Regions from separate parts of the Homo sapiens genome. Here region 2 is linked to region 1. Evidence: fine-mapped expression QTL. Tissue or cell type: whole blood. Region 1 holds a variant in brackets; the other region holds the start of a gene. All regions are shown on one strand. Distances are from middle to middle.

Region 1 (8,105 bases):
ACCCAGCTGTAAACTAATAATTTTTATAGCCCAATCTACGTTGAGACATAATTCTATTGTATGTATATACCAGACTTATTTCCCTGTTCTCCTATTGATGGACATTTAAATTGTATTCAATTTTAAAAGTTATAAACAGTGCATGTGGTAAACTTTTTATAGGTTAGAATTTTAAAGTTTTTAGTTGGTAATTGATTCATCGATCAGACATTTGTCAAGGACCCATTATGTGCTTTTTACAACACCAGTAGCTCATATATCAGTTCACAAGATAAAAATGGGATTTCTCTATTACCTGTCCGGCCCATAGTAGCCTTCATAACAAAAGCTAGTTTCAGGAGAGCTTTCTCTGTACCTGCTACTGTGCTTGACCTTTTATAAACATTTATCTATAGATGGGGAATTAGTATTCTCATTGCACAGATGAAGTAACGGAATCCTAGAGAGGACAAGAAACCTATGCAAGGACACATTATAAATAAGCAGTTGAATTAATTAATTCATTCAACATTTTTTTAAACAGCTATTAAGTGCCAGGCATTATTCTGGAGTCACACTGAAAGTAATACAGTGGTGAATAAACCAGATATGAATCTTACACTCTGGATAGCAGACAATAAGCAAGTAAACAAAGGTAGAAATGCACGATTTTAAGTTGTGACAAGTGCTGTATAGGAAATGATTGGGTGCAATGGTAGAGAATATTGGGGGCAGGGTTGGGAGGAGGAGAACTACTTAGATTGGGTGGTCAGACAGGCCTTTCAAGGGAGCTGAAATTTAGCTGAAACCATAAAAGGAGAAGGCAGAGTTCTTCCAAGTAGAGCACACAGCTGGTTTAAAGGCTCAGAAGTGGGAAGAAGCTCAATGTACCCAAGGAACCGAAAATACTCCAATATAGCTGCAGGAACGCTGGTGAGGTCACAGAGGCCCAGGATGACAGTGGAGAGAAGGCAGCTCTAGTCCTATCAGATTTCTTAACTATGAAGAGGAATATACATTTTATTTGTGATGGAATGGGTCAGTCTTCAAGGGTTTCAAACAGGAGGCAAAATGCTCTAATTTATTTTTTTAAATAATCACTTTGGCTTTTCTGTAAAGAAAAAGGTTAGAAAGATGAAAGAGTGGAAGTGCTGAGAAAAGCAAGGTGGACATGTCAACAATCCAAGTGAGAGATGACGGGGTCTTGGGCTAAGATTCTACTGAGGAAGGATGGAAGTCGAAGATCTACCTGTTTCTTGGTGGGATAAATGACAGGACTGTGACTCCAGAATCTGCTCTCTTTCCTCTGCCACAGAAACTGCACCTCACTGGCTGGGAATGAGGATATCTTATGGAAGATTCTTATTTTTGGAACTTTTTGAACTCTCTCTGTTGGCTTCTGAAAGCTGAATGCTCTTTCAAAGGACCTGAAGATTTCTTTTGTCCTCAGTTACATTGAGCCCACATTTATGAGGCACTGGTAAAACATTTCTGCAGGAGGGAGTTATGTGCATTGTTCCTCTTAGAGAAACATTGCTCATACTAACTCCTGACTGCATGCATTTTGCAAATGCACAGCTCAGTGAGTGTGTCTTCCCGTTGTTTGTGGTTTACAATCCTGCAAGAAATGGCTTTCTATGAGGCAAAATGGATAATGGCCTTTTATTTTAAGTTACAAAGAGTTGGGTGGCAAGGGGGTAGGGAAGGCAACCCTAAATGCTTTGAATGAATTATTGAATTGACATGGTCCAAAGTGACATTTCTTTTTAAAATGTTTCTTTTATTAGTTTTTTCCTTTTTCTCAAAAATAATGAATATTTATCACTGGAAAACATGAAACTACAAAGAACAACAGACTCCACAATTCCACTTACCCAGGGATATTCACTATAATGTCTTAATGTATATGAAGGTAACTCTTAAACAATTTGTTTTATTTTTACTAAAATTAAAAATCAGTCATTCTTAATATAGACAGTTTACAGAATATAGAAAAGCAGAAAGAAGAAAGTAACTCACCATCCAAGGATAGCTGTTGATAACATTTTAATATGTTTTAAAGTCCTTTTTAATGCATATTTTATATAACTGATATTATATCATCCATTTGTTTTTCCACTTAATATTGCCACCTAATAATTTTTCTGTTACACAAGTTATTAATAATTATATTTATAAATTTGCATAAATTTGTATTATAGCAAACACTGATTATAGTTTTATGTATATATAATTTATGCAAAATTTATATGCATAAAACTATAATCAGTATTTGCTACACAGTGCCTTGAATCCCTAACTGTAAAACAATAAATACATAAAATAAAAATAATACCAACCTCACTGGGTTGTTGTGAGAATTAAATAGGTTAGATGAGTTGATGTACACAGAGCAGCTCGTATCACTTTCTTCCTATGAATTTAGTCTACTTCATTTTTTTATTATATGTAAATTAATGAAAATTCTTATATGTAATTTCATTATTATATGTAATTCCTTATAGAGCTTTGTCAATAAAGCTCTTTCTGTATGGATTATTTCCATTTCTTTTAGATTTAATGCCCAGAAGTAGACTTACTGGGTCAGAGGGTAGGCACAACATTAAGAAATTTAACATTATGTTTGCAAATGCCCTCATGGGATATGGATTTGGGACTTGTAAAGTCTCAAGATTTATTTATCTATTTTTTGAGATGGAGTTTTGCTCTTATCGCCCAGGCTGGAATTCAGTGATGCGATCTCGGCTCACTGCAACCTCCACCTCCCGGGTTCAAGTGATTCTCCTGCCTCAGCCTCCCAAGTAGCTGGGATTACAGGCACCTGTCAGCACACCCAGCTAATTTTTGTATTTTTAGTAGAGACGGGGTTTCACCATGTTGGCCAGGCTGATCTCGAACTCCTGACCTTAGGTGATCTGCCTGCCCCGGCCTCCCGAAGTGCTGGGATTACAGACGTGAGCCACCGCACCTGGCCAATCCCAAGATTTAGATTGTGTTACAAGTGGCTGCCTTGTTAGCGATTACCATGAGTAGGTGGCTAGTGTCACACTGGATGACCTATAGGGTTAAAATTTTGTATGTGGAACAATATTGATTCTCCCCTGTAGCATGGGACAGAGGGAGGAATGCCTTTCTACCTAGGTATAGCAGAATCACCCAGGCGACTTTTTAAAAATGTTAATCCTCCCTTCTTTCTCCACAGCATCCTAACATTCTTTGCCAGGGAATGCCTTTTCCCTCTGAAAATCCCAGCATCCTCTGCCTCCCCAATCACTGATATAATAAGGGCCACTTTACATACAGAGGTGTATTATTTCCTTCAGATGTGTTAAACAGGGAAAAATTTTGAGAAACTACCAACGGTTTAGGTGATGACAAATAGTGGTTAGGACTCAATGTCTGAAGCAAAAGAGGAGATTGCATTAGTCAATTTTGACAAAGACTGCTTGGTGCATCCCTGTGGCTGCCCATTGTAGCTCACAGCGTTGCACTGGGCCCCGCTGTAGATGCCCAGGAAGGCTGTCTCCTAAATTGAAAGAGTGTGGCGTTAAAAGTCTCCACGGAACCACAGAGATCTTTTCATTCAGCTCTGAGACCCGTTTTTAAACCCTGGATGGCTCCGTTTTAATTCCTAGCCCCTATAACTCAGCCTGGATGGTTTCTCCTTATCAAAGCTACTATCTCTCCTCTTCCTTGCCCAGGCTGAATTTTTTTTTTTTTTTTTTTTTTAGATGGAGTTTCGCTCTTGTTGCCCAGGCTGGAGTGCAATGGCATGATCTCGGCTCACTGCAACCTCTGCCTCACAGGTTCAAGCGATTCTCCTGCCTCAGCCTCACAAGTATCTGGGATTATAGGTTTCCACCACCATGCCCGGCTAGTTTTTTTATTTTTATTTTTTTTTTTGTATTTTTAGTAGAGACGGGGTTTCACCGTGTTGGCCAGGCTGGTCTTGAACTCCTGGCCTCAAATGATCCACCCACCTCAGCCTCCCAAAGTGCTGGGATTACAAGCGTAAGCCACTGCACCCAACCCCAGGCTGAATATTAATGGCACATAACTTTCTGGTTCCCCCATTCTATGCTATTTGGGTGGGGCTTAGCTCACCTCAGCCTCAAGACTGGCCAGTCAGACTATTCCATCTCCTTGGCCACAGTGATTGGTTCAGGGGCAGGCACATTACCCAAACTGGACCTTTCTGCAGGAGCTATCAGGAAAGATAGCTTTCTCTGAGGTGCAAGCTGTGTGGATGATGCAAGTGCTAGCAGCTTGAAGCCATTGTGGAGAAACTGTCTGCAGAAGAGGCCAACTGCAGAAAGAAGCAGAGCTGAGAGATGTCACTTCGGACCATGTCAATTCAAGAACATTGAGCTCCTGGTTTGAGTTGTAGAAGCTGTAGGCTTCTCTTTAATACTCCCTCCCTCCGCAGTATGTTTTTTGTTTTGTTTTGTTTTGTTTTTGTTTTGAGACGGAGTTCTGGTCGTGTCACCCAGGCTGGAGTGCAGTGGCGTAATCTTG[C/T]GCAGCCTCCACCTTCTGGGTTCAAGCGATTCTCCTGCCTCAGCCTCCGAAGTAGCTGGGATTACAGGCGCACGACACCACGCCTGACTAATTTTTGTAATTTTAGTAGAGATGGGTTTTCACCATTTTGGACAAGCTAGTCTCAAACTCCTGACCTCAGGTGATCCGCCCGCCTCTGACTACCAAAGTGCTGGGACTACAGGCATGAGCCACCATGCCTGGCCTGCAGTATGGTTTTGTTTTTCGTTTTGTGTTTTTTTTTTTTTTTTTTTTTGAGACAGAGTTCCGCTCTGTTGTCAGGCTGGAGTGCAGTGGCATGATCTCGGCTCACTGCAACCTCTGCTTCTCGGGTTCAAGTAGTTATCCTGCCTCAGCCTCCCGAGTACCTGGGATTACAGGCATGTGCCACCACATCCAGCTAATTTTTGTATTTTTTAATAGAGACAAGGTTTCACCATGTTAGCCGGACTGGTCTTGAACTCCTGACCTCAGGTAATCCACCTGCCTCAGCCTCCCAAAGTGCTAGGATTACAGGTGTGAGCCACTGCACCTGGCCCAGAGCTGTTTTATTTTTATTAAATGCTGCATAGAATCAATTGTCGAAATATGTTTGGGGCCAAGTGCGGTGGCTCATATTTGTAATCCCAGCACTTTGGGAGGCCAAGGTGGGCAGATCACTTGAGTGTCAGGAGTTTGAGACCAGCCTGGCCAACGTGCAAAACCCCATGTCTACTAAAAATACAAAAATTAGCTGGGCGTGGTGGCACTCGCCTGTAGTCCCAGCTACTCAGGAGGCTGAGGCACCAGAATCACTTGGACCCGAGAGGCAGAGGTTGCAGTTAGCAGAGACCGAGCCACTGCACTCCAGCCTGGGCAGCAGAGTGAGACTGTGCCTCAAAAAATAAAATAAAATAAAATAAAATAAAATAAAATAAAATTAAAATAAAATAAAATAAAATAAAATAAAATAAAATAAAAGTCATATATTATTAGACCAGTTTCATTTAGATTGACATATATGTTGTTTGCAAGCTTTTGGTATTACAAACAATGTTGCAAATATTACCATCATACATATATCATTTTGTGGGAGAATATCTGTAAGCTAAATTACTAGAAATAAACTTGCTGTTAAAAGGTACGTTTAAAATTTTGATAGATTTTGTCAAATTACCTTACACAGAGGTTATGTGATTTTGTGCTGTCTTCAGCAATGTGTGAAGGTGCACATTTTTCCACACTCTTGGCTAACACGTGTTATTAGTTTTTCCATCTTTGCCAATCTGATGGGTGAATAAATAGTAACTCATTGGAATTTAAATTTACACAGAGGAACTTTTAAACTTACAAAGCTTTAGGGATGTGTACTGCATGGTGAGATTGCAGAACTTAGAGCATTTGAGCCATCTCTTGCCTCCATTTCTTTGGAAAGCAGTTAATATAGTCCTTTTCCTTAAGTATTAGAATGATCTCTGAAGTTTGAGACCTTGCGACCATAACAGGTTCCCTGGTCTGAGTCATTCTGAAAGCAATCACAGTTATGGTACAGCTACTATTTGTCACATTCTCTATAGGTGCCATCATTTATGTAATCTCATTCATATTGAATACTCCAAACAGACTTACGCAGTAGGTATTATGACCTCCATGTCAGCGGAAGAAACTTGCCCAACATCATAGAGCTAGTAAGAGGCAGAGGCTATTCAACTTGACTTGGAGCCTGCACTTTCCCCAAGACTTTATCATTCTAATTGTAGACAGGACATAATATATGCAACCGTAACAAATTCCTGATGCTCATGCAGTTCATTCTATCCACAGTCACATTTAAAGAAGAAATAAGAATTCCCTCCAAAGTTATTAAAAATTGATTCTATTTTTTATTCATGTCTCTTATAAATTATTGAAGGGGATCCAGTTCCCAGCGCAGAACCGCACATCTCAAAAACTCCTTCCTCCACTCTCCAATTCTGTTATATCTTGAATCTGCTCTGGAATCTCTCATGTGCCAAACTCCCATCCTCCGCCTTCAGCCCTGGCCCCATTTTCTTCTACTAATTCCTTTTTAAAATAAGAATAAAACAAAAAACAAACAAGAAAACCCCTCATAATATGAGATCTACCCTCTTCAGTTTTTAAGTGTATAGCACGTTATCGTTAACCATAGGTGCAGTGTTGTACAGCCGCTCTCTAGAACCTTTTCATCTTGCGTTATTGAAACCCACTGAACAGCAACTCCCCACTTTCCCTCTCCCCCACCATTTTACTGTCTGTTTTTGCTTCTATGAGTTTGGCTACTTTAGATGCCTCATGTAAGTGGAACCATGCAGTATTTGTCCTTCTGCGACTGACTGATTACTCTTAGCATAATGTCCTCACCGTCCATTTTCTTCTGTCTCCTTTTCTACTATAGCCCAGCTCTTATGAAAAACTTGATCTCTTATAAAACTGGGTATCTCGTTAAATTCTTCCCCTGCTTCTTATGTCTCTACTCATTCTATAGATTCTGCATCTCAAAATTCAGGGAACTACCCCAGCCAAGAGAGAGAGAGACTAAATGGACAAGAACACACATTTTTTTTTTCAACTTTTATTTTAGATTCAGGGGGCACATACGCAGGTTTGTTACAAAGGTATACTGCATGATGCTGAGGTTTGGAGTATGATTGAACCCGTCATCCAAGTAGTGAGCATGGTATCCAATAGGTAGTTTTTCAACTCTTGCTCTCTTCACTACCTCCTCCCTCTGGTATTCTCCAGTGTGTTGTTTCCATCATCATGTCCACGAGTACCCAACGTTTAGCTCCCACTTAGAGAATATGTGGTATTTGGTTTTATATTTCTATGTTAGTTTGCTTAGGATAATGGCCTCCAGTTGCATCCATATTGCTGCAAAGGACATGATTTTGTTCTTTTTTATGTCTGTGTAGTATTCCATGATGTATATGTACCACATTTCCTTTATCCAGGTCACTATTGATGAGCACCTAGGTTGATTCCATGTCTTTGCTATTGTAAATAGTGCTGCGATGAACATACGGGTGCATGTGTCTTTTTGGTGGAATGATTTGTTTTCCTTTGGGGTATCTACCCAGTAATGGGATTGCTGGGTTGAATGGTAGTTCTATTTTTTTTTTTCTTTTGAGAAGGAGTCTAGCTCTGTCGCCCAGGCTGGTGTGCAGTGGCATGATCTCGGCTCACTGCAACCTCTGCCTCCTGGGGTCAAGTGATTCTCCTGCCTCAGCCTCCAAGTAGCTGGGATTACAGGCACCCACCACCACGCCCAGCTAATTTTTGTATTTTTAGTAGAAACGGGGTTTCACCATGTTGGCCAGGCTGGTCTCGAACTCCTGACCTCGTGATTCACCCACCCTGGCCTCCCAAAGTGCTGGGATTACAAGTGTGAGCCGCTGTGCCTGGCCTTTTTTTTTTTGAGACAGAGTCTTGCTCTTGTTGCCCAGGCTGCAGTGCAATGGCGCAATCTTGGTTCACTACAACCTCCGCCTCCCAGGTTCAAGTGATTCTCTTGCCTCAGCTTCCCAAGTAGCTAGGATTACAGGCATGGTCCACCATGCCAGGCTAATTTTTTGTATTTAATAGAGAGGTTGTTT
Region 2 (8,105 bases), 95 kb after region 1:
CGGCTCATCACAACCTCCACCTCCCTGATTCAAGTGATTCTCCTGCCTCAGACTCCCGAGTAGCTGTGACTATAGGTGCAAACCACCACGCCCAGCTAATTTTTGTATTTTTAGTAGAGACAGGTTTTCACTATGTTGGCCAAGCTGGTCTCAAACTCCTAACCTCAAGTGATCTGCCCGCCTTGGCCTCCCAAAGTGCTGGGATTATAGGCATGAGCCACCGTGCCCCACCAGGTCTTCTTAATCATAACAAATTCATCTTAAAACATCATTTTAAAATATATTATTTTTTATTCTTCATTGACTTCCTGCATTACTCTATTTTTTCAGAGTTTCTAGCAACCAGTATCATTGGTATTTTAAACAATGTGTACATGTACATTTATGCAGATGAGTTAACATATATCAAAGCAACCTCCAAACAATGCCATTTAGGTAATCTCCAATTTAAAAGCCTCAATAGAATGATAAGATTGAGCTTTTCTGTAGTTCCATGACCTCCAGCAGAGTCTGCAAGGCCACAGCTGCCTGAAGGTTGATTCTGTAATTAGAAGATGCCAGGGTCATCTCAGAATAGAACCTCAAGCCACCCAGGCTACATTTACAGAATCAGCCTCTCCAGAAAAACAGCAACAAAGGAGGGCCTTCCTATGTATTTGGAAGGAGTCACCTAGAGGAGGGACTTGGGGTTTTGGTGTTGGTGTGGGGGGCAGGGATGGGATGGGGAGGGGGAAGCTTATTGAAATATACTAAAAGACAAACCAACCTAAGGGCTGGAGGGAAGAAAATTCACACTTGTAAGCTTCTTTTTTAAGGGGCATCTCTTAGGCTCTAGCTTTTGAGATTCAGTATATATATATTTTTGAGTCTTGCTCTGCTGGAGTGCAGTGGTGTGATCTGGGCTCACTGCAAGTTCTGCCTCTCAGGTTCACACCATTCTTCTGCCTCAGCCTCCCGAGCAGCTGGGACTACAGGCGCCTGCCACCATGCCCAGCTAATTTTTTGTATTTTTAGTAGAGACGGGGTTTCACCCTGTTAGCCAGGATGGTCTCGATCTCCTGATCTCATGATCCGCCCGCCTCGGCCTCCCAAAATGCTGGGATTACAGGCGTGAGCCACCGCGCCCGGCCCAGTATTTTTGTTTTATGAAGATATTACATTTGTAAAGTATGAGCTTGGTGTCAGCAAACTTATATCCCTGTGTACAAACTGGCCGAATCACTTAGCCACTTTGGGCCAAATCACTTAGCTCTTCTAACAGTAAGAAATCAACAAGAAAAATAAACATTTCAAACATTACAATGTGTTCATGTATTCACTGTGGGGGATGACCAGATTCTCGAAACCACAGGTTGTTCTTAGTGAAACAAGTTTGGGTTGGGGCCATAGACTTGTGTATTTAGAATCAATGGCTGTTCTCTCTCTGGGACTTTGATTTTTTTCTTGGGCTCATCCCCTTTTTGTAGTATCTTATCTTTGTCTTATTTGTATAGGACTTAACTGTTCCCATTCCCTTATTAGAGCAATCTAAGTGATTACCTTCATACCTTTTGGAATTATATGCTTCAAAATTCCAAAAAGAATGATTTTGGGCTGGGCACAGTGGCTCACACCTATAATTCCAGCACTTTGAGAGGCTGAGGTGGATCGCCTGAGGTCAGGAGTTTGAGACCAACCTGGCCAACATAGTGAAACCCCGTCTCTACTAAAAAATATAAAAAATTAGCCGGGCATGGTGGCAGGTGCCTGTAATCTCAGCTACTCGGGAGGTGGAGGTTGCAATGAGCCCAGATCGCACCATTGCACTCCAGCCTGGGCAACAAAAGGTGAAACTCCATCTCAATTAAAAAAAAAATAATGATTTTGGTGGTCGACTTCAAATAGGTAGGAGAAGAAGGAGAGAGGAGATGGAGGGTCAGGGAGATCTAATTACTCTCTAAAATCATGCTAGGAAAGATAACACCTTTTAATAACACTCTCTGCTTTTATAACATCATTCTGCCAAGGAGCTCAAAGGTTTCAACAAAGTTCACTTTCAGAAAACCCCTTTGAGGAAGACAGAATATACATCTTCTCTCCATTTTAAAGATGAAGAAACAGGCCGGGCACAATGGCTAATGCCTGTAATCCCAGCACTTTGGGAGGCTGAGGCCAGAGGATCGCTTGAGCTCCAGAGTTTGAGACCAGCCTGGATAACATGGCAAAACCCTGTCTCTACAAAAAAAATACGAAAATTAGATGGGTGTGGTGGCATGCACCTGTGGTCCCAGCTACTTGGGAGGCTAAGGTGGGAGGATCGCTTGAGCCCAGGGAGTCAAGTCTACACTGAGCCATGATTGGATCACTGCACTCCAGCCTGGGTAGACAGAGCAAGACCCTGTCTCAAAAAAAAGAAATGAAAGAGAAAGAAAGAAAGAGGAGAGGAGAGGAGATGAGGGGAGGGGAGGGGAGGAGGGAGGGGGGGAGGAAGGAAGGAAGGAAGGAAGGAAAAAAAGATGAAAAAAGAAAAAAACAAGATGAAACAGAGGCAGAAAGACTTTACGTAAATTGCTCATCATGTGGTTGTCAAGTTTGACCCCAAAACCCAATTTATTGACCAAGGTTATTCTTTGACTGAGGCAAGGGGGTCCGCTCTCCTGGGCCTTGGGCTTTAGAAAGCTCATCTCTGGCCTTTCTGAGATCCATCCCTTTCTTTTTATTTTTCTTGACACGGAGTCTTGCTCTGTCACTCAGGCTGGAGTGCAGTGGCATGATCTCGACTCACTGTAACCTCTGCCTCCCGGGTTCAAGCGATTCTCCTGCCTCAGCCTCCTGAGATAACAGGCGCTCGCCACCACATCTGGCTAATTTTTGTATTTTTAGTAAAGACTGGGTTTCATCATGTTGGCCAGGTTGGTTTCGAACTCCTGACCTGAGGTGAGCTGCCCACCTTGGCCTCCCAAAGTGCTGGGATTACAGGCATGAGCCACTGCGCCCAGCTCAGATCCATCCCTTTCTAAGGGCAAACAGTCCATGGTGCAAAGGGGCCATGCCACCCAGAGTTATGAGTACCTGGGACTCCAGAATTCCTTGCCTGGTGGCCTCCACATGCACTTCCAGGGCCTGCTTGGGCCTCTTCTATGGGTCTGTCCTGAGTGTTGATAGAACCACTGATGTGAGTACCTGGGCTTGAGCCGTGGCCTGGAGATCCTGTTGACTGTAGCATGGAGGGGGCTTGTGCAGCTGAATGTCTGTATGCAGGTGGTGGGAGTTCTGGAATATGATGGAGCTGGAGGTGGGAAGAGAAGTAGGCTTGGGGCAGCTCTCTCATGCCACCTCATTCTGGCCAAAACTCAGGTCAAACTGTGAAGAGTCTAAATGTGAATCTGCCCTTCAAGGTGGCTACAAAGGTATCTTTGTCAAGGTAGGAGACCTTGTGGCCTCCACGTGCACTTCCAGGGCCTGCTTGGGCCTCTTCTACGGGTCTGTCCTGAGTCTTCTATGAATCTGCCCTTCAGGGCAGATTCATATTTAGACTCTTCACAGTTTGACCTGAGTTTTGGCCAGAATAAGGTGACATTTAGTTTGTTGGCTTGATGGATGACTTAAATATTTAGACATATGGTGTGTAGGCCTGCATTCCTACTCTTGCCTTTTTTTTTGCCCCTCCAGTGTTTTGGGTAGTTTTGCTCCCCTACAGCCAAAGGCAAACAGATAAGTTGGAGGTCTGGAGTGGCTACATAATTTTACACGACTGCAATTCTCTGGCTGCACTTCACAAATGTATACAAACTAAATACAAGTCCTGTGTTTTTATCACAGGGAGGCTGATCAATATAATGAAATTAAAAGGGGGCTGGTCCATATTGTTCTGTGTTTTTGTTTGTTTGTTTCTTTTTTTGTTTTTGTGGCCTCCTTCCTCTCAATTTATGAAGAGAAGCAGTAAGATGTTCCTCTCGGGTCCTCTGAGGGACCTGGGGAGCTCAGGCTGGGAATCTCCAAGGCAGTAGGTCGCCTATCAAAAATCAAAGTCCAGGTTTGTGGGGGGAAAACAAAAGCAGCCCATTACCCAGAGGACTGTCCGCCTTCCCCTCACCCCAGCCTAGGCCTTTGAAAGGAAACAAAAGACAAGACAAAATGATTGGCGTCCTGAGGGAGATTCAGCCTAGAGCTCTCTCTCCCCCAATCCCTCCCTCCGGCTGAGGAAACTAACAAAGGAAAAAAAAATTGCGGAAAGCAGGATTTAGAGGAAGCAAATTCCACTGGTGCCCTTGGCTGCCGGGAACGTGGACTAGAGAGTCTGCGGCGCAGCCCCGAGCCCAGCGCTTCCCGCGCGTCTTAGGCCGGCGGGCCCGGGCGGGGGAAGGGGACGCAGACCGCGGACCCTAAGACACCTGCTGTACCCTCCACCCCCACCCCACCCACCTCCCCCCAACTCCCTAGATGTGTCGTGGGCGGCTGAACGTCGCCCGTTTAAGGGGCGGGCCCCGGCTCCACGTGCTTTCTGCTGAGTGACTGAACTACATAAACAGAGGCCGGGAACGGGGCGGGGAGGAGGGAGAGCACAGGCTTTGACCGATAGTAACCTCTGCGCTCGGTGCAGCCGAATCTATAAAAGGAACTAGTCCCGGCAAAAACCCCGTAATTGCGAGCGAGAGTGAGTGGGGCCGGGACCCGCAGAGCCGAGCCGACCCTTCTCTCCCGGGCTGCGGCAGGGCAGGGCGGGGAGCTCCGCGCACCAACAGAGCCGGTTCTCAGGGCGCTTTGCTCCTTGTTTTTTCCCCGGTTCTGTTTTCTCCCCTTCTCCGGAAGGCTTGTCAAGGGGTAGGAGAAAGAGACGCAAACACAAAAGTGGAAAACAGGTAAGAGGCTCTCCAGTGACTTACTTGGGCGTTATTGTTTTGTTTCGAGGCCAAGGAGGCTTCGGGAAGTGCTCGGTTTCGGGGACTTTGATCCGGAGCCCCACATCCCCACCACTTGCAACTCAGATGGGACCGGAGGCGGTGTTAAATGGGGAGACGATGTCCTAGTACGAGCTCTGGTGACCCCAGGACTCTGCGCTGCTGCGCTTGGGGCTTGCCCGACGGTGGAGACCGGGGAGCATCTCTGGGCGTGGAGACCCGGGCGCAGTACCCCGGGCTCAGAGGGGTCGGGGGTTCCCGGGCGTGCTGAGGGCGCTGCTGCCGGGTGGGGAGAGCTGCAGGTCCGGCACCGAGCGCTGCTTTGTTCGGAGGGCCCTGAGCTGGCTAGAAACCCTTCTGGTTGCAGGTCGGCCAGTACCTACGGAGACAAATGCCAGCACTGAGTCTTCACTCGGTTCTTAAGAAGCTGGTCTGTTCTGACCTGGGAATTGGCTATATGCTCCCCGGGACTGGAGCGGCACAGTCCCGGACTGTGAATCCGGGAACTCGAGTTGGAGGTGTCCCAAACGGTCCGTGGTGCTATTGCTCACTAGAGGCCTTGGGTCTTTGTTTGACCTGAGGGGTAGGGAGGTCCTGCCTACAGTCTCCGTGCGCTCAGCTGAGCTGGTGTCCCTGGCGCAGAGCGCGGACGAGTTTTGTTTCCTTTTCTTTTTCTTTTTTTTCTTTCCTTTAAGTCTCGGTCTGTCGCCCAGGCTGGAGTGCAATGGAACGATCTCCGCTCACTGCAACCTCCGCCTCCCGGGTTCAAGCGATTCTCCTGCCTCAGCCTCCTGAGTAGCTGGGATTACAGGCGCGTCACCACATCCAGCTAATTTTTGTATTTTTAGTAGAGACGGGGTTTCAACTTGTTGGCCAGGCTGGTCTCGAACCCTCGACCTCAGGTGATCCACCGGCCTCGGCCTCCCCAAGTGCTGGGATTATAGGCGTGAGCCACCGCGCGCGGCCGAGTTTTGTTTCTTTTAAAAACAAGACTTAGGAGAGCCTGCGGAGACCCGGAGGTGGGGTGCCCAATCCTCCCTCTCCCACGTTCCCTGCAGCCCCATCTTCCAGACCGTTGCTGCTGGTCTCTCGGGGCAGCTTCTGCCTGGGCGCAGATGGGGAAGCTGGGCCGAGGTGGTGCCGTGGAATGACCGGGAGTAACCCCGGCGGGCGGCGCAGAACTCGGAGCTCCGCCGCGGGGCTGGGCTGGGCTCTGCCGTGAGGGTGGGGGTGCTGGGCGCGCGGGCTGCGGTGGCCCCCGGAGACTGGCCCGCAGCGCCTCCTGGCCGGAGGACCTAGGAATCGGCCGGCTCTACTAGGTGTCTTTGCTCGCGGTTCCGACTGTGAATCCGGTGAAGACCGGTGGTTGCAGACGGGGAGGAACTATGAGGTTGAGGCGAAAGCCCGTTTTGTTTTTTTTTTTTTGTTTTTTTGGTTTTTTTTTTTGTTAGCGTGTTTGCCAACTCCCAGGCCATTGGTAAAGCAGGAAGGTTCTTGGGGCGGCGGACGGTGCCAGGGTTATGTGTAGGTGCCTCTTTAGGTATATCTTTTATCAAAAAGAAGCAAAGAAATAAGATTAAAAATAAACAAAGAAAAAAGTTGTCTGGCACTGGCAGTAATTGGCCTGCCTTTGCAGCACTGATACCATTAGCTTTTAAAATCCGACTTTTCATTGACACTTCAAGAAGAGAATGGGTAGTATATACACATTCATCTCATAGTGGACAAATTTCATATTTAAAAAAACCTTCTGGGTACTGAAATCAGCAAGTCACTTGCCCTCCATGGCCGAATCCCTGCTTCCCACGAAGAGAACCTCACAAAAATTTCCCCCAAGTTAAAGAGTGGAATTTTCTTGATTTTTTTTTCTTTTTTTTTTAACGGCCGTAGTTTAGAACCCAGACTTAAATTATGATCTTCTTTTCAAACAAAACTTAAAGTCCTTAAGTTTTCATCTCCCCTTTTATTTCAACCTATTCTTCTCATACCTACCACAAAAATAATGGAGGCTTTCTGTTGAGAAACTTTCCGTTTCTGTTGAGAGTATCATTCTCTTGAGAAACTTTCTCCTAAATCAGAGAAAGTATGGAAGCATGGAAAGTATTCCTGAGTAGAACCTCTACAGATATTACAATATTTTTCAAATACAAAGTTTCCATTGTCAGCCTGTTTCCCAAGTGCTTCCACAAACCATTAAATAATTCCACAAACCATTAAAATAATTAATGCTAGGGAATTTTAGGAAAACATTGGTTTACAATCAGAAGGACCGGGGAAGTGGGTCTTCAGCCTTCACGATGACTACAAGCCATTTAAGGGACTAGAATTGCTACTGTTGTCAGAGCAATTTAGGAGTCTGTATTTGAGCACCCGCATAGTGTTCCAGAATGACATATCTGACTGTAACCTGGACACGTGTGATATGTTGTCTCCCCTGCAGATGAGCATTTGAAATCTCAACCCTCGTATTTCTACGAGTGCAGGCCTATAATGGACCCTGGGCACATTTTTTTTTTTTTTGAGATGCAGTCTCGCTCTGTTTCCCAGGCTGGAGTGCAGTGGCACGATATGGCTCACTGCAACCTCCACCTCCTGGGTTCAAGAGATTCTCCTGCCTCAGCCTCCTGAGTAGCTGGGACTATAGGCGCACGCCACCATGCCTGGCTAGTTTTTGCATTTTCAGTAGAGACAGAGTTTCACCATGTTGGCCAGGATGGTCTCGATTTCCTGACCTCTTGATCCACCCGCCTCGGCCTCCCAAAGTGCTGGGATTACAGGCGTGAGGCACCGCGCCCGACCCCTGGACACATTTTGACTTAGAACATATTTTCGGTTTGTGTGAGACAGTGCATTAGTGCAGGATTGGAAAAGAGTGATCAGGAATTGATTGTTTTCAAGGATTGGTTCCTTCTGCTCAAGGAAGTCCCATTGTAAACATAAAAAAATGAATGAAACTGAAGAAGTTCAGTGACTTAGCTTTTTATTATCTTCTGTAGTACTTACCTTTTTGGAGAGGAGTTGGTTGGGATATTTTTCCATTTAAATTTTTTTTTTAAAGGGATCTTCTCTCCCGTAAGCCGGGATACTTAAGCTATATATGTAGTGGCTACAAATTAAGGTCTTCACTGTTTTCATTTTTAGCTGCTAGAATAAGTGAACATTACCTTAGATAGACTCTTCTAATTATGAAGATATCTAGATGTCTAGAAAATATCAAAATGCATG

What was found. PIP is the estimated chance that this variant, and not a neighbour inherited with it, causes the effect.
Region 2: it holds the start of ABCA1, and the variant in region 1 is fine-mapped to the expression of ABCA1 in whole blood (TOPMed, PIP above 0.99).

Annotation. Positions count from the first base shown.
Region 1 is chr9:105,020,077-105,028,181 of GRCh38, reverse strand. No RefSeq gene overlaps it. Among named protein-coding and RNA genes, the nearest start is that of CT70, 32 kb to the right of the region's middle. The variant C/T (reference allele first, on the strand shown) is at 4,495.
Region 2 is chr9:104,924,671-104,932,775 of GRCh38, reverse strand. It overlaps ABCA1 (ATP binding cassette subfamily A member 1), which reads left to right and starts at 4,621. Exons shown (of 50, transcript NM_005502.4): 1 at 4,621-4,841. LOC105376196 (a long non-coding RNA gene) reads right to left here and starts at 5,987. Exons shown (of 3, transcript NR_188620.1): 1 at 4,866-5,987; 2 at 3,052-3,268. RefSeq lists silencers at 4,462-4,651, 5,988-6,227 and enhancers at 4,852-4,931, 5,252-5,311.